Linked DNA regions of Homo sapiens. The protein of the gene in region 2 purifies or fractionates together with the protein of the main gene of each other region. This does not show direct contact. Each region holds a gene or a part of one and is shown on either strand. Other genes may lie near its edges. The genes, in order: HS6ST2, CHST10, CTPS2, SERPINB7, SLC67A1 and VEGFD.

Evidence for each region.
Region 1: the proteins of CHST10 (region 2) and HS6ST2 purify together in Homo sapiens (affinity purification with mass spectrometry, with the first as the bait; one large-scale study listed by BioGRID). This does not show direct contact.
Region 3: the proteins of CHST10 (region 2) and CTPS2 purify together in Homo sapiens (affinity purification with mass spectrometry; one large-scale study listed by BioGRID and IntAct). This does not show direct contact.
Region 4: the proteins of CHST10 (region 2) and SERPINB7 purify together in Homo sapiens (affinity purification with mass spectrometry; one large-scale study listed by BioGRID and IntAct). This does not show direct contact.
Region 5: the proteins of CHST10 (region 2) and SLC67A1 purify together in Homo sapiens (affinity purification with mass spectrometry; one large-scale study listed by BioGRID and IntAct). This does not show direct contact.
Region 6: the proteins of CHST10 (region 2) and VEGFD purify together in Homo sapiens (co-immunoprecipitation; one large-scale study listed by IntAct). This does not show direct contact.

What each region holds. Positions count from the first base shown.
Region 1 is NC_000023.11:132,630,130-132,633,629, reverse strand, and holds part of HS6ST2 (heparan-sulfate 6-O-sulfotransferase 2), read left to right. Parts: intron 1-3,500. UniProt on the Homo sapiens protein: 6-O-sulfation enzyme which catalyzes the transfer of sulfate from 3'-phosphoadenosine 5'-phosphosulfate (PAPS) to position 6 of the N-sulfoglucosamine residue (GlcNS) of heparan sulfate.
Region 2 is NC_000002.12:100,404,169-100,407,668, forward strand, and holds part of CHST10 (carbohydrate sulfotransferase 10), read right to left. Parts: exon of another isoform or gene 3,279-3,500; intron 2,540-3,278; 5' UTR 2,508-2,539; coding exon 2,408-2,507; intron 1-2,407. UniProt on the Homo sapiens protein: Catalyzes the transfer of sulfate from 3'-phosphoadenylyl sulfate (PAPS) to position 3 of terminal glucuronic acid of both protein- and lipid-linked oligosaccharides.
Region 3 is NC_000023.11:16,695,670-16,699,169, forward strand, and holds part of CTPS2 (CTP synthase 2), read right to left. Parts: intron 3,425-3,500; coding exon 3,254-3,424; intron 2,668-3,253; coding exon 2,567-2,667; intron 1-2,566. UniProt on the Homo sapiens protein: Catalyzes the ATP-dependent amination of UTP to CTP with either L-glutamine or ammonia as the source of nitrogen. Constitutes the rate-limiting enzyme in the synthesis of cytosine nucleotides.
Region 4 is NC_000018.10:63,799,418-63,802,643, reverse strand, and holds part of SERPINB7 (serpin B7), read right to left. Parts: intron 1,779-3,226; coding exon 1,632-1,778; intron 1-1,631. UniProt on the Homo sapiens protein: Might function as an inhibitor of Lys-specific proteases. Might influence the maturation of megakaryocytes via its action as a serpin.
Region 5 is NC_000011.10:2,915,778-2,919,277, reverse strand, and holds part of SLC67A1 (solute carrier family 67 member A1), read right to left. Parts: exon of another isoform or gene 3,079-3,500; coding exon of another isoform or gene 2,864-3,078; intron 2,657-2,863; coding exon 2,538-2,656; intron 1,291-2,537; coding exon 1,183-1,290; intron 1-1,182. UniProt on the Homo sapiens protein: May act as a transporter of organic cations based on a proton efflux antiport mechanism. May play a role in the transport of chloroquine and quinidine-related compounds in kidney. Plays a role in the regulation of lipid metabolism.
Region 6 is NC_000023.11:15,360,414-15,363,913, forward strand, and holds part of VEGFD (vascular endothelial growth factor D preproprotein), read right to left. Parts: intron 2,907-3,500; coding exon 2,696-2,906; intron 1-2,695. UniProt on the Homo sapiens protein: Growth factor active in angiogenesis, lymphangiogenesis and endothelial cell growth, stimulating their proliferation and migration and also has effects on the permeability of blood vessels.

The DNA.
Region 1 (3,500 bases), on a different chromosome or scaffold from region 2:
GCCCAGGTTGCTCTCTGAGTGCCAGATCTGTTCATTCAACTCTACTCAGATGTCCCGCAGGCACCTCAGTCCTTCCTCCAGAGCTCTAGGAGGCATCCTTAAGTCCTCCTCCTCTTTCTCCCCCGAATCCCTTTTGTCACTTTTACCCGCTAAATATTTCTCTAGTCTGCTCCTCCTTCTCTTTTGCCTTGTCTTCTGCAGTGGCCTCTTAACTAACTTCACGAATTTCATCTTCATATACATAATGATCTTTCTAAAACACAGACCTCATCATGTCATTCCCCTGCTTAAAGCCCTTCAAAGCCTCTCTGTTGCCTGCAGAATTAACTTTGAATGCTTTAATATGGCATCTGTGGCCTTTCACAACCAGGTCCTGGGCTCCCTCTCCATCTTCAATTCCTGCCACTACTCCTTCACTCCCCGGGAGGTTTTTTGATGCACGTTTCTCTTGCACAATAGGCTGGTTTATGCCTCTGTGCCTCTGCTCATGCTGATCCTTCTGTCTCATACTCCTTTCCTCTCTCCTTGACTCATTTTTTTTTTTTTTTTTTTGAGATGGAGTCTCACACTCTGTCACCCAGGCTGGAGTGCAGTGGTGATACCATGGTGCACTGCAGCTTCTACCTCCTAGGCTCAAGTGATCCTCTCGCCTCAGCCTCCCTAGTAGCTGAGACTACAGGTGTGCACCACCACGCCCACTAATTTTTCTATTTTTTGCAGAGACAGGGTTTCACCATGTTGTTCAGGCTGGTCTTGAACTATTGGGTTCAAGTGATCTGCCCACCTTGGCCTCCCAAAGTGCTGGAATTACAGGTGTGAGCCACCGTGCCCAGTTGCCTCATCTAATTCTTGTTTTTCAAAATAAAGCTGCAGAAACCCTTGTCTTATCTTTAGGCTAGGTTAGAAATCAGTGTGAGGTGTTTTTTTTTAATCATACCCTGCACTTGCTCCAAGCATTCATGGCACACACAATTGAAACACTTTCCCCGGGTTTCCATGTCTTATCCCTGTCTGTATCCCCAGTGCCTGCCATAGTGCCAGGCACACATTAGGTGCCAAGACTAAGCAAGTCTTGACCTGACCTGACCACTGAGGGAAAACTGGCCATGTCTCTGTTTGCCCCCGACCCCAGCTGCATTCCCCAGCGTGCTTCTCTGATATTGCCCTAAAAGCTCTTCCTTGGATATAATGAGCATCCTGGATTCTTTTTCTGACATAACCTCCAAGGTGTTATCTTTACCTGCCTTCCTACTTCCAACACACCATGAAATTCAGGAGACCCCTGGACCCTGGACACCTACCCTTCAGCAGATCTTTCTTTCTTTCTACACATGGAATATTTCTAAGCAGCATCAAGTGCTTTCAGTTGAGGCATTCTGGGTCCCCAAGGCTATTTGCCCTGGAAGAAGGGGGCTGTTGACACTCACTGAATCTCTGCAGGTTTTGTCATATGAGTCTAGGTGGCTGTTATCACCAAGGCAGCAGTGTGTGTATGTGTGTGCCCCTCTAACTTCTCTGCTGCAGTGAAAATCCCTACAGTGTAGACACTGAGGCTGCCTACGTTGGGCTGTCCGTATTTCTTAAGGGCACTAGGTGACCTTCAAGTTGAATGCATACTGGATCCACACACCCACAACATGAGAGACCCTCTCTGAAAGTCTGTCTCTGTGTTGCCTTCTCTCTATCCATGTTGGGGTAGGGGTGGTGCTTATGAAACATTGATTGTGTCATTAACCCTGGTGGTTGGGATGTATTTGCTCTGAAAGGCTAGGAACAATGTTTAGGAAGGAGAGCTGCAGACTTCCACTGTGGTGCACTCTTAATATTTACCAGAAGATGTCACTGTAGGCTTAAACCAATACAAGAAGTTAGGGCAAGAAGACTTCCAGCTAAGCATGAAGGTGACTCCATTTTGGGGGGTTAGAACACCGAGCAGCCCCCATTACAATGCATGCCTGGAAAAGCTGGTTGAAAGGTTAATCCAAATGTGTCACAGACCTTAATAAATTTCTTTTTTTTTTTTTCCAAATAATCAGACTAATTGCCACTAAACTGTTGCCTCAGGGCTAGCATAAAGGCTCAATAAGTATGCACTGAATGGATGAGTACTAAAGCTAGGAGTGGAAGGAGGGAACCCAGGGCTTTAGTAGTCATCTTTGTTGGTAAAGGCTACTGGAGAACAAAAGCTGCTACTCTTTAGCAGTGGCTTCTCATAGAGATGAATTTTAGTGGCACCAACAAGATCAGGTCCTAGGGAAAGTAGTGAGACAAGTGAAAGTGCTCTTGGCCCCTTTTCCATCCTCACTCCCAGATGCTTCTCCTGTGCCCAATGCTTGTTTCTTCCTGAAAAAATATATAAAGTGATTTATTTTAAGAAAAACCTTCCTGTGATTTTTTGCAAGGCACTTAGAAGATTATCCAGAGTTTTTATGTCATGAGGCATGTCCCTAGCTCTCTCCTTCCTCTTCCCCAGGATAGTTCATCAAGTAAGCAGTTAAAGAAGTTACTGAGATTCTGCTTTATGCCAGGGATGAAGGCCAATGTACAAAGCTGGAATGGATGGGATGAGGGCTATATAGAAGAATAGGACAGAGCCCCTGTCCTTGAAAACATAGTTTAAGTGGAAATATAAACAATTAATTGTAATTCAGTATCACACATTTTTGGGGGAGGCAGTGGGGTGGAGGGGTAGGGTCTCACTCTATTGCTCAGGCTGAAATGCAGTGGCACAACCACAGCTCACTGCAACCTCCGTCTCCTGGGTTCAAGTGATTCTCGTGCCTCAGCCTCCTGAGTAGCTAGGATTACGGGAGCGCACAACCACACCTGGCTAATTTTTGTATTTTTAACAGATGGGGTTTCACCGTGTTGTCCAGGCTGGTCTCAAACTCCTTACCTCAAGCAACCCACCCACCTCAGCCTCCCAAACTGCTGGGATTACAGGCATGAGCCACCGTGCCCAGCCCCAGTATCACAAATATTTTAACAAAGGCTAAGTATAGAAGTGCTATGGCAACACAGAGGAAGAAATGATAACTGGCAACACAGAGTGGGGTACATTTTTTCACAAAAGAGATGGTACTTGAACTGGTATTGAAGGATGAGTAGAATTTTCCAGCCAAAGAGGGAAGATCATGGCAGGCAGAGCAAGCACCATGTACAGGATAGAGGCATAGGAGATAGATTTCAGGATGCCTGAGGTGATGGAAGCCCCAGTTGGGAGAAACGTTTCCTCAATGAACATCAGCCAATATTCAGTTAAGCAGGTGGCTGAGCAGGTTCCCTGTGGCTCCTCATGTATGTGTAGAGAACAACCACTCCCTCAGATGGGAATGAATATTTCAGAAAAGTTGCAAGCCATTCTCCGGGTTTCCTTTAAGAAGCTAAATGCTAATATTCAATGTTTATTGTTGCTTTCTTTCCACAATATGCCCTTCTGTGGCCTCGTCCTTCATCTTCTGTACCTGAGTGGTAACCCATTTCTCATGAAAAGCACAATG
Region 2 (3,500 bases):
GCAGGCTGGGTAGTGCTGTGGTGGTCACCCCGCAACGGGAGTGGGCCCACAACAGAAGATTCTCACTGAGTTCACTGCACACTGTGCGGCCAACAGCATCCTCACCACCAGCAGCCCCTGCCTCGGGGTCAGGGGCAGCACTCCCATCTCAGTGACCCAGCACCCACACACCACACCAGATCTCACAGGGCAGGGAAAGTGCCCCCTTTCACTCGCCTGAAGGCAGCCGGCTGGAAAGATCTCACAGGCAGTATTAAGGACCGCTGCGGTGCTCCTCTCCAGGTGTAAAATCCGAAAGCCCTTCATCTTTCTTCATAGGTTTTATCTCCTAACACTCCTTACCACTCCTTTTCTCCGCTTCACAAAACCCTGTTCTGCGCCTACACTTGCTTTTTTTCTAACCGGGCCTACCCCTGCTTAGCTTCCAGGATCAGTGTCTACACTGAAAACATTCAGCACAAAACTTGATACATCAAAGGAGAATGAGACCTCATTTACCAGATGCCGCTGGGAAACAAGGCATTCTTTAGAGGCCATTCTGCCAGATAACAGTAAAACACAAAGGCACAAGTCTTATTTAACTATTACCTATAGAAGTCTCACTAAAATGTATTACATCTACTCCTACTTTTTTAAGCAAAATAAACCATAAACAATTTAACCTCATGACCTGCCTTTTGAGTGCCTTCCATACCAGGAGGTGACATTTAGGAGAATCCTGAGTAACACCTATTTCTTATTCTCAGCAGCTCTGTTTCTCTTCAGTTCTCCAGCTAGGATCTACCACTGTGCTTCTCAACTGGGCCCCACCCCTAGTGATTCTCCTTCACTGGGTCTCAAGCAGCAGCAGGTCTGTAAAGTCCCACAGGTGATTCTGAAGTGCTGCGGGGATGAGAACCCGGCTCTAGGGCTTCAGGAGGGATCTCTCAGTGGCATGGCACTGTGCTGAAGCTGCCATGGAAATGTCCAAACTGTCAAACTGAGATCATCGTGTCACATTCCAGCAACCCTCCAAGAATCGACCCTTGCTCTGCTGACGGAACCCCGAGTCCCGGGCGTGAGCTGTCATGCTCAGTGACACCTGCCCAGATACCTGCAGGTGTAATATCACCTCCCGAGGCTGTGCAGACCTCACAGGTTTCTCTCCAGGGCTCCTGGAGGATGAGGCAGGACATGTGATGACAGCCAATCAGGGCCCAACAACTGTCATGGGGAGAACCACCATGTGGGCTAATTTCAGGGTGTCCCTCTTTTCCCTGCAGACCTCCCTTCTAACCTTGCTGTCCCTCTGCAGACAAGGTGGGGCAGAGAGAGGATGGGGCAGGAGGTGTAGGACATCGGGCAGTCCTTGACACAGCCAGGGACATGCCTGGGAGCTCTGTGAGGTGGAGCAGGGGCCTGTCCCACACAGACAGCACAGGTCAGTGCAGCCTCCAGGAAGAACTGCTGGCACAGAGGCATCTCTAACTGCCCCTTTCCAAGGCCACCATCGGCAGGAGGACAAAGTACGGTGCAGAGCACAGCAAAGTGCTGTGCTCATCCACGTTCCCCAGTATCTCCCAATCAGCCTAAAGGAATGGGCCAATCCACGGCACAAATGAGGACTTCAATGACTCCATGTGTCTGGCTTCCTCGTGCTTGCCTGCTTGGCCACTCAATGAAGTGGCCTCGGGGCTGGAGAGCATATCACACACCTCTTTGGACATATCCAGCACTCCACAGACCACAGAGCACCTCACCATGCTCAGGGCAATCATGGGCGGTGCCGGAGCAGGCAGGGTGTCCATTTGGTGGAAGAAACATTGTGATGTAGATAAGCAAATGACAAGAGCACGAAGTAGAATCAGCATTCTGAGACCCAATTTGGCGCTCTTTATCCGTCCTCATCTGAATGCCTACGTTCAGTAAAGGAGAGCTAAGAAAGCCTCCAAGACAACCTGAAGACATACATTTAAATGACCCTCCTCCGCTGCATGGAGGGTGACCTTCAAACATGTGGCCACCACACGGGCATGCCAAGCAGTTGAGGCTGCACCTCTCATGATGACATGAGGCAAAGAGAATTCCCAACTGCGAGCCTGAGAGGCGCCCTGCTGCAAGGCATAAGGCCACTGTGCTGCTGGGAGGAGACCCTGCTCCTTGCTCCTAGGCACCACCCAGGCCTCAGCCACAAAGAGCAGCTTCCTTCCTCCAGAGGAGATGCTTGAAAAGACCCTCCAGCCCCTCCCACCCTACCTCCCCTCACACCTCTGTAACATGAAGGAACGGAGGCCATGACCTCCAAGGTCCCTGCTGGCATGAAAGTCCTTTGACTCTGTGACAGAAGTCATCTATGCATGTACCTAGGAACAGTGTTGCAGCTAGGTCTAAATTAGCCAAAATTCGTTCCACCATGAAGCATACGTACCATCTGGGTCTTTAAAGGTCAACGTGATGAACTTGCTAGCCACCATGAACATGAAAATCACCCAAAAGCATGCGGCCAGCAGAAGCCACTGGTGGTGCATGTTGTCACACCGCAGCCATTCACTGACTCTTCCTGGAAAACACAAGCGAGATGCCCCTGCTGCTTACAAATACATCAAGTCAACAAAGAGGAATGAAAACGACAGGTGATTTCAGTCAGTAAGTATCAGCACAAATATTTCCGTTTTTTTCCACTGCTACAATAGGTAGTTTGACTTGGCATTTAACATTTCATATTGAATTAATAATATAAATGATTGATTCAATAATAAAATCAAATTTAGAACACCCTAATGGAGAGACATGATAATGAGAGAAGACCACTTCCTTGTGTTCTCAGAACACAGAATAAGACTCCTTTGCACATTTGATCCCTGACTCCTGTTGGGCCCAGGCTAAGGTCCCAGTGAGCTCCCACGATGGTCTGGAAGCAGGTGGCAGGAAGAGGCCTGCCAAGGACTAGGCCTTAGCTGAGGGTCATTCATAGTGGGCAGAAGCCATGCTGGGGCAATTAGGAGCTGGCTGTGTTTAAAATTCTGACTGGCTGACAAGATGTAGCCACACCTAGAGAAGCTCTAAAAAAGCAAAGGAATGAACACTGACGCTTCTCGCCTCCGCCCACTTGCCAGCAGCGGCCTGGGTAGAACACTGAGGTGGGTGTTTTTCATGCTGTCACAGCCAGGGAGCAACACGGGGCATGTCGGTCCTCAGCCTGGCACAGAAGCCACACTCTCCTGCAGGAGGCACATAAAGAACTGGGAAGTCACTGTCAGTTCTTGGCAGGTGACACAAGAAAGTGTGTTTCATTTCACCTTTAACACAGTGCTTCTTCAAGCCAAAGCTCTCCACGTACAGACAAGACCCTGGGCTGAGCTGGCTTCCACCGACTGACTGAGGCCATCCATCACTTCTGCATGGCAGGGAGAAGTGGTCCCCTCAACACAGTGCTGATGGCAAATAATTTCAGAGAGAGCCTCCTAACCCTGGGTGGGTCAGAGCTCCATGAAGACCCAGGTGAATCACTCTCCTTGTCT
Region 3 (3,500 bases), on a different chromosome or scaffold from region 2:
GCCTCCTGAGTAGCTGGGACTATAGGCGCCCACCACCACGCCCGGCTAATTTTTTGTATTTTTAGTAGAGACGGGGTTTCACCGTGTTAGACAGGATGGCCTCGATCTCCTGACCTCGTGATCCACCCGCCTCAGCCTCCCAAAGTGCTGGGATTACAGGCGTGAGCCACCACACCCGGCCCTTTTTAAATTTTTTTTAAAGACAGAGTCTCGCTCTGCCACCCAGGCTGGAGTGCAGTAGTGAGATCATGGCTCACTGCGGCCTCAAACTCCTGGGTATAAATGATCCTCCTGCCTCAGCCTCCCAAGTAGCTGGGACTACAGACCTGCACCACCACACTTGGCTGAGTCTTCTTTTTTGGAAAATAAACAAGAAGAAAGAAAACTGTTATTCCTTTAAGACAAGCATAAATTATTTCAGGTTCATGCCAAGATAACTCGTACTAATATAAATAAAACCTGTCAGCTCCACTGGTATGAGAAGTTGAGGTCTCACTCATAAAAATGGCTTTGAAGACATTTCAACAGCTCCTCTATGATTAAAACTAAAAATCAGCTTTGGCAGTCCTTCTTCAAAAGCTTAAATGGTGCACAGACACAACTGTTGAACACAACTTACAATCAACCAAAGAGGATGGTTGACCACTAGTATCCAATAAGCAAATATAAACATCAGGGTTATAACGGAGAAGGGGTTCTGTTTGTCAGTTTCCCTGTTTCCATGAAATTTAAAATCCAGCCAATGAGCTCCTGGAGAGCAGGAGTCAGATCACACTCAACCTCACATCCTTAGCAGCTATCATCAGGGCTAGTACATATTAAGTGCTAAATTAATCATTGTGAAGACAAGTCAATTCAAGGGTAGAATAAGAAATAAAATTAAAAATTTGCCAGGCATAGTGGTGGTACACTGTAGTCCCAGCTACTTGGGAGGCTGAGGCAAGATGATTGGTTGAGCCCAGAAGTTTGAGGCTGCAGTGGGCTTTGATCGCACCTGTGGATAGCTACTGCACTCCAGCCCGAGGCAACATAGCGAGACCCTATCTATAAAAAATAAATAGCCAGTAACTTTATCAGTTCTACTATTAACAAAATGGATCTTCTACATATCATGATATCTGCTAACACTTACATTGATGACAATAATAATAGCTAACTTATGTTCACTGAGCACTTCCTAAATGCCAGACATTGCAAAGTGCTCTGATACATTGCATTTAATCCCCAATCCTGTTATTATCTTATTATTATAATATTATATTATTACATTATTACAAATGAGGACGTTGAAACTGTGAGAATTTTCCAAAAGTCATACAGGCATCTTAATAATAGCTAATAATTTTTAAGCACTTACTATATCTGTGACACCATTCTAAGCACTAAGTGTAGAGACTTATTTAATCTTCAAAACAATGAGTTACAAATGAGTTAAATGAGTTAAAGAGGCACAGAGAGGTTGAGCAAACTTGCCCAAGGTCACCCCCTCCTCCCCATAAGTGACCTTGCTAGGCTACAAACCCAGACAGTTTGCCTCCAGACTCTTAATCACTGAGCTATACGTGGCTCAGGGGTCACTGCAGAAATACAAACTGAGGCAGCCTGACTCTAAGAACCAAATTGGTCATTATTCTGCTCTTTCGCCCGGCAATTAAGCCAACTGACATTTAGAGGAGGAGGATATGGATGTTATTGTCATTCTGCACGTGGAGAGGAAGGGAACAAGGTGAAGGAAGTAAACAAGTGGCAAGTTCAAATACGACTTTTTTTTTTTTTTTTTTTTTTTTTTAAATTAAGACAGGGTCTGGCTCCATCACCCAGGCTGAAGTGCTGGTGCAATCACTGCTCTCTGCAGCCTCAACCTCCCGGGCTCAAAAGATCCTCCCATCTCACCTTCTCAAGTAGCTGGGACTACAGGTGCGTACCAACATGCCTAGCTAATCTTTGTAGTCTCTGTAGAGACGGGTTTTCGCCATGTTGCCCAGGCTGTCTCAAACTCATGGACTCAAGCAATCCTCCCACCCTGGCATCTGAAAATGCCGGAATTGCAGGCATGAGCCACCTCGCGCAGCCACTAGCTTCTTTCTTTAAACAGCTGATACTAATCACTTATCACCGCTACCATCTGACTTCCCTAACCCAGTGTCTCTTTACACTTCCAAAGCACTTCGGAAATACTTTTCAAATAGTATGCACTAGAATGCAGTCTGTTGTGTGTAGACAGGGTTGTCTGCAAGCTCCCCAAGGTCAGAGACTGTGCCCATCCCAGGCCCCGGCACAGAAGAGGCCCTCACATTGACTTTATCAGCAGCTGATCAGTCTCCACAAGCAGATCACTGCACGTCCACCCAGGAGTAGGTGTGATTGTCTGTCTAATGCCAATCTTGCCCACTCACTTGTGACCACAAAGACAGAAGCCATCTATGTTGTTTCTTGCTGTGACCCCACCTCCTAGCCCAGTGTCCAGCACTCAGGAGGGCGTGTGTAAGTATTTGTCAAATAAATGAAGATCAGATGCTCAAAGACCCAGCAGGATATAATTTTATAAAGAAAGTTCTATGCTTGCCTCAATAACGCATATTTGGGGCTCTTCCTTATTACCATCCACCGGCACCTTGGCTTGATTCATAACCCACTCCTGGACAGCATCAGTAATGTGAGGGACAACTGTAGAAAGAAGTATTAATACAAAAGTTTATTCCATGCTCATGAGAAAAGAATGTGCTTTAGGCCTCCCCAATCACCTGAAAGTCACCTGGCAAGTTACCCTGACATATTTTTGGAAAATGAAAAGAAAAAAACGCAACAATTTTAAAAGAATTAGAACTTGTAGAGCGCAGGGACTGTGACATTTTCAGTTCTACTTGGTTTTTTTGGCTTTGTTTTGTTTTTTTTTTTTAAGATGGAGTCTCACTCTGTCGCCCAGGCTGGAGTGCAGTGGCACGATCTCGGCTCACTGCAATCTCTGCCTCCTGGGTTCGAGCAATTCTCCTGCCTCAGCCTCCCGAATAGCTGGGATTACAGGCATGCGCCACCATGCCTGGCTAATTTTTGTATTTTTAGTAGAGATGGGGTTTCACCATGTTGGTCAGGCTGGTCTCGAACTCCTGACCTCAGGTGATCCACTGGCCTCAGCCTCCCAAAGTGCTGGGATTACAGGCCTGAGCCACCGTGCCCGGCCTTCAGTTCTACTTTTGAGCAGTACAAAGATATTCAGCACACAGGGCTCCATAATGTCTGTGGAATATAATACCTTGCACTGTTTTCCCCAGGTAATCACCACGCCTCTCTTTATTGATCACATGCTGATATATCTTCCCCGTGGTGATATTGTTGTCTTTATAAAGATTAATATCCAAAAATCTTTCATAATTTCCAAGGTCTAAATCAACTTCTCCACCATCATTTAAGACGAAGACTTCACCTAGGATTAAAAAGGCAATGGAAAAATCAAAACTTTGCTTCCAGTAGATTTTTCAAAGATGGACATATTTTTGTTA
Region 4 (3,226 bases), on a different chromosome or scaffold from region 2:
TAACTTTTCAGTATAGCTGACATACATATATGTGTGTGCACATACATACACACAAATATGCATATCTATACATATGTATCTATCAGAAAAATTGACCAAATTCTGTCAGCCTCCCTTCCCTATCTCACATGCTTGCTATAAACATCAAACAAGGTAATATAAATGAAGCTCAGAGCACATGGCCTGGGATGTAGTAGGTGCTCAATAAATGGCACCTATTATTCCTTTTTAATGAGAGAATAGAGAAGGGAGATGAGTCCAGGCCTCTGAGATTGCAGATCAAACTCAAAGAGCCAAGTTCAGGAGGAGGAAAAGCAGAAAAAGGGCTGAAAAAAGATCAGGCTCTGAGATTCAGTGGTGGTGTCTGGCTTGCACGGCCCCCACCGTCTCCCCATTGCACTGTGTTGGTCCATTTCTCCTGCCACATCAGTCACAGGGCAGTCCCTAAACTGTGCTTTTCACTTGAGACACAGCAGCATGGAGTGATGAAACTGCCTTTGCAAAATTATAACAGTAGGAAATCTGACATAGTTGACTTGATCTTGCTGCTAACCTCCAAGATGTTGTTGGTCATTATTTGGCATAGGCTAAGATAACTTTGGAAGAAATTTAGTTTATAGTTTGAATGTAAAGCAAGGATCATAGTAGCCCTTCCCAAAACTAAACCACCTTTGTAAAACTAATGAAAGACCACATGATTATGATTATGAGAGAGGCCTGAATTCCGCCACGATGTAGAGATAGTAAACATTAACCAATCATTGTTATGGAGGCCATAAAATTTGTAACCCCCTCAATGACTCTTGTAGATACTATCACTATTGTAGAACCTAAGACTGGCCTTTTGAGATGTCTTTTCAGACTTTTACATTTCTGACACTAACTCCACTTGGACTCATGACTCATGACTAAACCGGTCCTCTGGCCCCCACAGAGTCCAGAGGTGGACTCAGTGCATGAGGACAGTTTTACACACGCTTGTGACTGCATCCCCACCCAATCAACAGTGCTCATTCCCTAGACCGCTGCCCACCAAACTATCCTTGAAAACTCCTAACCTCCAAACCTTCAGGGAGATTGATTTGAGTAGTAGTGACTTCATCTCCCATGTGGCATGGTCGGCCTTGCATCAATTAAACTCTCTTTACTACAATGCTGTGCCCTCAGTGAATTGATTTTGTCTGTGCAGCAGGCAGGGAGACCCTCTTGTCCAATTACAGTGAGACCATACATTTTAATTCTAAAAGGCTCAGGACTCTATCATATCATACCTGCCTAAAGATGCTCAGTCTAGCAAAATTTCAATGACACGTAGAAGACTGTATTCATGGCCAAACACCAAAAAGGCCTAAACTCATGTCTTTTTAATTCCATAGCTGACATTTGAGAGAGTTCCAATTTGATCACTACTCAACTGAAATTATGCTAAACTGAGTTAAGTCAATCTCAGCAACTATAATGATGTCTGGCTCATACTAGGTACCCCTTAAATATTTGTCAAATAAATTAATAAGCAGGTAAGTCTCTAGTATCTCAATACCCTGAAATCTTACAGTTTATCAGTGAAAACTCAATCAACAGTATCCTAAAAGTCTTATTTCCCAATAGTGAAAATGACAGTCGTAACTTACTTCAGAGAGGTCATTCTCAGGCAGCAGAACGTACATGTTTATGCCACCATTGTATCTGAGCTCAAGAATCTTCATTGATGGGTCCTCAATAACAGACAAATTGAACTTCCGTTCCTGATGCATCATGGCGACTGCCTTCCCAGAGCACTGAAAGTCAAGTCACAAAAAATTATTTATGATCCCACCTCATTTTACTTTATTAACCAAATACATATAAGAATATTGTACTTGGTCAATAAATTTTTGCTCAGTTGACCCTGCAGATTTTTTCCTGACATGTTACCAATAGTGGTTGCATTGGTGCAAATCTTAGTGGTAAAGCCAAGACTTCAAATTTGATTCCTTGAGTTTAAAATTTCCTAACTATGTGACCTTGGGTGAGTTACTGTTCCTCTCTGTTCCTCCATTTCCTCATCTATAGAATGGGAATGACTATAATCCCTGCTGTACAGGATTGTTGTGAGGATTATGTGAATTAATATAGCTAGCACTTGGAACATTGCCTTGTACTTAGTATTTTAACTGAAAAGTCTCTATAATAAGTAATGAAAATTTACTAAATAACATTAAAATGAAAAATGAATGCTATAGGTTTTTTTTTCTTCTCAGAAGTAAAACACAGACTAGTACTAACAAAATTACATGATTTAAGACCAGGCGCTGTGGCTCATGCCTGTAATCCCAGCACTTTGGGAGGTCCAGGCAAGAGGACTACTTGAGCCCAAGAGCTCAAGACCAGGCTGAGCAACATGGCGAGACTGCATCTCTACTAAAAATAAAATAAAATAAAAAACAGCTGGGTGTGGTGGAACATGCCTGTACTCCCAGCTACTTGGGAGGCTGAGGTGGGAGGACCACCTGAGCCCAAGAGGTCAAGGCTAGAGTGAGCAGTGAGTTCACCACTACACTCCAGCCTGAGCAAGCTTAAGACCCTGTCTCAAAAAAAAAAAAAATACGCTATTTAAGCATGAGGTCTCAGAAAAATAGAGATTCCTGCAAGGTATTTGATAATGTCCCTCAAATTCACTAGGGCAAAAAATAAGTAGCTCTTATCTTGAGAATATCATTTATAGATTTAGAGACAACACTGAGGTGCAATAAATTTTCTCCTAGTAATATTACGATCTGCAAACTTGTCAACATTTCTGTAATATCCCCTTTTAGGAAAAAACATCCTACATGGGGAGGACAGATAATTCTCTGTCCTTGAACCAAAGGTCCTTCTCTGGAAAGGTTGCCTTTTTTGACTTAAAGTCCAATCCTCAGAAAGAACACACATGAAATCTACCTGCTTAGTGAGACAGGTCCCCAGAATTGAGCCTGATACACATGGGGACTGGGATGTGATAGACAGGATGTCTCACTGGGGCAGGGAAAGAATCACACATCTGGGTTATGCTGGAGAGATTATGTCACCAATTTTTAATATGATAGAACTAACATTGATATCAGAGATCTAGATTCAACAGCATATTACATTACAAGCTGTCTGCTATAGCTACATTACATAGGGTGTGTGGACTAGCAGGAAGAGTGTTTAAAACAATATTATGATATAGTAATGCTTTTTAAAATAAAAAGAAATTAGGAGAAAA
Region 5 (3,500 bases), on a different chromosome or scaffold from region 2:
TACCCCCACACCCCGACCTTGGCGCCCACCTCCCTCCCGCCTCAGCAGCCTGGCCAATCAGGGTGTCTGGGCCCTGGCTGGTGACTGGTTCAGGGAGGGGCCTGTGATGCCAGCCGGGCCAATGAGACCCTTCCCTGGGATTCTGCCGTATCCCTGGTGTGGAAAGTGCCTCTCGTGTGGTTGCTAAGCTCTGGACTGTGAGCAGGAAGGTGCTGGAAGGGAGGGACCCAGGGCTGACCACGTGGGAGGATTTGGCCCCCAAGACCCACCACGGCTCTCTGTTATAAGAGCCCTCAAAGTCACGTCTGCAATCCCAGCACTTTGGGAGGCCGAAGAGGGAGGACTGATTGAGGCCAGGAGTTTGAGACCAGCCTGGAAAAGATAGTGAGACCCTGTCTCTACAAACACTTAAATTAGCTGAGCGTGGTGGCCCATGCCTGTAGTCCCAGCTGCTCGGGAGGCTGAGACAGGAGGATTGCTTGAGCCTGGGAGGTGGGGCCTACAGTGAGCTGAGATCATACCACTGCACTCCAGCCTGGTCAGTGGTCTCAAAAAAAAAAGGGCCCTCAAAGGGCCTGTTACTGAGGTTAGTAACTTGGGTTCCAGTTTTGAGAACCAACAGAGCTGGCCTAGGTGGGCTGGGTGGGACAGGGGCCGGTGCCAGTTGGAGTGCTGAGGGCCTATTCTCCATCCTGCTTCCTGGCTTCTCAGTTAGAGGAGTCCAGGCGGGGCTTCTGAGGGACAGGGCTGCTCGTGGGCTTGTCCGTGGCTCGCTATCCTATCTGTGGTCCGTGACGCCCTACGGTCTGCTGAGAGGGCCCAGGGCCAGCATGCTGCAGAAGGCAGTGGTGACACTCAGACCTGCTGTCCCTGCATCTCAGGCTGTCTGGAGAGGACGTGGGGCCACAGGGTATGAGGGTAAGAGCTGAGGAGCACACAGGGATGCATGGCTGCGAGCCAGGCCCTCTGCCCGTGGGGGCCCACCCTGGGATCTGCAGGTGTGCAGTGTAGAGGGGCTGGAAGGAGGTGGGAAAGACACTTTTCTGCCTTCCTCCCGCTCCTGCCTGCTCTACCACATCTGTGTGGACCTGTGGGGCACAGGCCAGAGGAAGGGCCGGGCCCTGGCCGCAGCTGGGACTCTGCCAGGCTCTGGCCGCTGTTGGGGCAGTAGTTGGGACTCACCTGTGGGGCAGTTGGAGGCCACCTTCACCAGGAAGATCCTCGGGACGTCTGGCAGCCGCAGCAGGGAGGCGATGGCCTTCAGGTCGAACACACTGGCCCGGGGGCCGCCTGGCACGGAGAGGCCATTCAGGCCTGCAAAGGCCATTGTCCCAATGCCCACCCCTCGCCCGGCTGCAGGCCTCGCCATTCGGAGGGCCCTGTTGCGCCCGCCAGGGTAAAGCTTCCTTCCTTGGCTTCAGCACCGCTCACTTGTGGGAATGGGAGCTGGTGATGCTCCCAGCTGCCAGGTTGGGCACCGCCCCTCAGCACACTTCTACGCATTCCTAGGGGCCCCCTGAATCCCCAGAGGCACTTAGGAAAAGCATTCTCTGCACGCAGGTAGACTGGCCTCAACCTGGGCATGCAGTGGCGGAGGCCTGCGGCAGTCCCTGAACAAGGGACCAATAGCTGCTTCCTATATGGTCCTGGCCTGGGGCCTGGGGCAGAGCATGACCAGGCCACCAGCCCAGAGGAAGACAATGGCAATACTGTACCACTCTCTGTGGCCACAAGTCACCGCCGTGGCCTGGCCCACCGGGCACCTCTGAGTGCGAAGCCACAGGCCCCCAGCCCGGCTCACCGAGTCCTTCCTCCTTATTGTCTCAGGGGCTCCTGCCTCTCTGGCTCTGCTGTGCTCGCCACAGGCCCATCTCCACCCGGCCCTCCCCCTGGACTTTCTAGGTTAATTCCATGACAGCCTCCTGCCCCAGGATGGTCCCAGGTGGGTCCCTCTGGCCCAGGCTGGGCTCTTAGTCCCTAGGCACCGAGGCATGGGCCCTGCCACGTGCCTGGCACAAAGGGGCTGCGTTCAGCAGGGGGCCAGCCTTGAGGGGACCCCCTCTGAGGAGCCTTGGCCTCTCCTCATGGGACCAGCCTGACCATCCTCTGCCCTCCACCAATGAGTGCCCCTCGGGCAGCACCCTCGCCTCTCCCTGGACACTCAGAGCTTCCGGAGCCTTGCTGGCCCACCCACCCCATTGGGGGGGTCCCTCCTGGTCCTCCCCAGGCCTCTCTGGGCCTCCCCTCCTAGCACCTTCCCTGTCTGGGCCTCCCCTCCTAACGCCTTCCCTGTCTGGGCCTTCCTGCCTCTCTGGGCCTCCCTGCCTGCCGGAGCCCCACTTCCACCTCTTCATGACCACACCTCACTTGGCTTCTATGATGTCAGCAGCTGGGAAGGGTTCAAGGAAGGCAGGAGGGTGTGAGTAGCCCCCAGATTTCCCCTCAGGCCCCCCGTACCCCTTGGCTGGAGCACGCAGGCCTAGCCAATGCCTTCCATTGCCCCAGCATCTGGGCAGGGTGTACCTGGCGGGGCTTACCTGGCAGTGGAGCCTGGGCGTCAGTTTTGGCCCCTTTGGTGCTGGCGGGGATGCAGGTGAAGCTGAGGACAGCTCCCAGGAGGGTGGCCAGGGCAGCCAGGATGGCCGGGCACTGAATCCTGCGGGCAACAGCCTCGGCTGCACAGGGTGCGGGTCCCAGGGCCCAGGCGCCCCAGCCACATCCCCCAACCTGCACCTTTGGTTGCACTAAAATAGCTTAAATCTGACCTCCCACATCCCCACAGTCTGTGGCCTAAAGAGTGGGGACTGGGACCCTCAGAGCACATTTATTAGGTGATGGATGAAGGAATGGGTGGGGCGCTCACCATCCCTGACCCTCGCCACGCCATGCAGGCCCCGGCAGCCCCTGTGGGTAGCAGCTGTGGAAGCCAGGCTGGTGAGCGCCTGGGGCAGGTGGCGGATCCTCCCAGGAACAGCAGCTCCCACGCTGGCCAAGGTCAGGAGAGGCTCCAAAGGGCAAGCCTGGTGTGCATGTCCCTGGGAGGGGCTCTCCGAGACCTGGGCACCTGTGCTGTGTCATGGGGATGGCTATGCTGCCTCCCCAGCGTGGGCAAGGGTGGGCCTGGCATTCAGCAGGCCCTCAGAAACCGACCCCCCTCCTGTTGGCCCCTCCCCACTTTCTAGAGTGTGGGGCATGCTGGGCTTGGAGGGGGCTTTGGGCTGGGATCCCAGAGCCTTGCAAAGCCCCGGAGGTGCCCCTCAGGCTGCTTTGCCACCTTCCCACCTTCCTGGGCCACTACCAAGGCCTGGGACTCTGGCTGTACCGTCAGCTTCCCTGCCATGAGTCCCCACCTGGAAACTTGGCCTGTGATTCCCCTGGAAGGAATCGGCAGGTCTTGTCTCCTGGGGACGGAGGCACCTGAAGCTGGCTGTTCCAACTGTCACCATTGCCTCCTGGGGGCTCAGCCAGCCCCCTCCCCTCAGGGAGAGACAGGAGGAAGT
Region 6 (3,500 bases), on a different chromosome or scaffold from region 2:
CTGCAACCTCCACCTCCTGGGTTCAAGCGATTCTCCTGCCTCAGCCTCCCAAGTAGCTGGGATTACAGGTATGCGCCACCATGCCCAGCTAATTTTTGTATTTTTAGTAGAGACGGAGTTTCACCATGTTGGCCAGGCTGGTCTTGATCTCTTAACCTTGTGATCCGCCCACCTCAGCCTCCCAAAGTGCTGGGATTAAAGGCGTGAGCCACTGTGCCCAGCCCCCAAGAAACCTTTTTAAAAATTTCTGATTATTAATATTTATATAAAAAGCCTGAAGGCTGAACACATGAGAGATAAATTACTCAATTAAGTATTATTATGGTTATTATTTAATTCACTATAATTAATCATGAATCCTTGAAAAAACAAGAAACCAACCTATGAAAATATTCCCAATTTAAAATTCTACTTAAAGGTTGCTTTCCATTTGCTTTTTCTCTTTTTATAAAACTAAGTTTTGAAATTGGAGTGGTAAGCTTTTAATCAAAATCATATGCAATTATGACCAACATCACTGATTAAAGGCTTCATAACTCTACTATTCTTTACTGCTTCCCAGCAGGACTGCTCTGCCTCAGGAAATTACCTTGAAATCCACAAGGGAGAGTTGATAACAAATTCTAATTGGTGTAACATGCTGATTTCATTATTGACTGCTTCTAACTTAGTAAATAACTTCAGATGATCCCCTAGAAATTACGAGATAAATTCATAGGGTTTGCAAATTCCGTGATATTTTAATGGTTTTCTCCTTAGAAAATGTCAATGTCATTGACTTTTTTTAGATCACCTAGTCTTGGTTTTATGGTAACGTTCATGTTCATGAAATAGCTCCAGGTTCACCTCAGGCCTTCAGTCAGGTAATCTGGTTAAGGCCTTTGACCTCTAGATGAGGTGCCAACCCTTTGTTCTCATGAAGGCTATATTAATTCACCACATAGAAACATCTAGAGCTTCAAATTTCTGTCTGAAGTGAGCTCGAGGCTATGGTTCCTACCACATCAACTCACTTAGACACACAGTCATACACATGAACACTAAGAATCCTCTTCACACTCATGCCCAAGGTGCTACCAAAGAATATGTCCCCATCTATGCACAGCTCTCCCCACAGCCAACAACAGAGGTCTGTGCAACCCCAACATCTTTTTACAAATGGGAAAAAACAAATACAATTTTAGGTAGAAAGAAAAAAATAGTTTTGGCCTAGTGGTTAATTTGAATTATGCTATATATATAGTCAGTTACCAGGTAATCATGTTAATCAAATCTAGAATGCTAGATCAGCAATGCTGTAGCAGCTTCTTGTGTTGTTTTGACATGACATCAAAAAATTAAGTGCCTAATCAGAAACCACAGAACTTTACTTGACAAGCATTTTATTCATTATGACAGTACCTACTCACACTGGTTTTCTTTCTTTCTTTCTTTGTTTTTTTGTTTTGTTTTGTTTTGTTTTTTTGTTTTTTAAGATGGAGTTTCACTCTTGTTGCCCAGGTTGGAGTGCAATGGTGCAATCTTGGCTCACTGCAACCTCCGCCTCCTGGGTTCAAGTGATTCTCCTGCCTCAGCCTCCCAAGTAGTTGGGATTACAGGCATGCACCGCCATGCCTGGCTAATTTTGTATTTTTAGTAGAGATGGGTTTTCACCATGTTGGTCAGGCTGGTCTCGAACTCCTGACCTCAGGTGATCCACCTGCCTCAACCTCCCAAAGTGCTGGGATTACAGGTGTCATCCACCACACCTGGCCTGATTTTCTTTTAAAGAATCTTCATACGTTACTAGGGAACGATCATTATCCTTATTTCAAATTATGTTATTTTCTAGTCTGGAGTTTTGATCATTTTGTCTTGAGAATTTTCTCCCTTCATTATTCTCCTAGCAATACCAGTACCCAATATTACAACTCAGTGTCTAACTTTTACTTTTCACTTTTACTAAAAAATCACACAACTTTGCAGAAATAAAAAAAAAAGCTATACCTAATCTATTGGTTCGGGGAGGGGGTGGTTTTTTTGAGACAGGATCTTGCTCTGTTGCCCAGGCTGGAGTGCAGTAGCATGATCATGGCTCACTGCAGCCTCGACCTCCTGGGCTCAGCCGATCCTCCCACCTCAGCCTCCCAAGTAGCTGGGAATACAGGCACGTACCACAATGTTCAGCTATTTTTTTCTATTTTTTTGTAGAGATGGGGTCTCGTCATGTTGCCCAGGCTGGTTTCAAACTCCTGGGCTCAAGCGATCTGCCGTTCTTGGCCTCCCAAAGTGCTGGGATTACAGGCATGAGCCACCATGCCTGGCCATCTTTGGTTTTTGTCTATGTATGTATGGCAGTAGAATACTCCTTGTGGATGAATCCCCAGGTTTTATTTTCTAAGTAAACCTGATGATTGTTTTTCTATTGAGAACAATAGTCTTCCTGGGTTTTCTTTGCCCCCACATCCTTGAGTTAAATTTATTTCTATATTTTGAGATGTTCTTTTGTGTTTTTTATCTCAAAATCATATTGAATATATTTCTCTGTGAAGTAAACATTAAAAAATCAAGATTCTGCACTAATACTGGAAATCAAAGACCGACTTTCATTCTCCCTCTGACACGTGTCTGCCCTACGCAGACTTTTGGAGAAAGTAAGTGTGTTTGTCACTATCTAATAAAGAGAAAGAATTTGTCTCCACATCCACACACCTACCTTTTAGTGTTTCAATGTCATAGAAAGTTGCCGCAAACCTAGTGGACCGATGGGATGCTGAGCGAGAGTCCATACTGGTAAAACTTTTGAGCCTCAGCCTGCATCTCCACAGCTTCCAGTCCTCAGAGTGAGTAATTCGAAGTAGTTCCTCCAAACTAGAAGCAGCCCTGATCTGCTGTTCAGATCGTTCCAATGTGGACTGAGATGATCGCTTAAAAAAACAAAAATACCAGTTTAAAAACAAGTTACTAAATTTTAAATTTGTCATAATAATCTTCATTTCTGACACTTAGAAGTGTAAATACATCTGTAATTAGAGATACTATTGAAACGTATGCCAGTGCCTAGGAAAAAGGATATCTTCTAGTATTTTTGGTTTACATTCTGCTCATTTTTGATTGAATCAGAGGATTTACTTATTCTTCCTGGGTTCTCAGAACACTTACAAAGAAAATTGTAGTGCATTGAATGGTGGGCCTCAAAATGATATGTCCACATCCTAACCCACAGAACCTGTGAACATTACCTTAATTTGGACAAAGGATCTGTACAGATGTAATGAAGTTAAGGATCTTAAAATGAGATCCTCCTGGATTATCTATGTGGACCCTAAATACTGTACAATGACAAGTGTCCTTATAAGAGACAGAAGAGAAGACAGGGACACAGAGGAAGGTCATTTGAAGATGGGGGCAGAGACCGGAGTGATGCAGTGACAAGCGGGGGATTGCCTAGAGCCATCAGAAGCTGGATGAAGCAAGAAAAGATTCTCTCCAAGAGTGTTTTGAGGGCGTGCAGCCTTGCT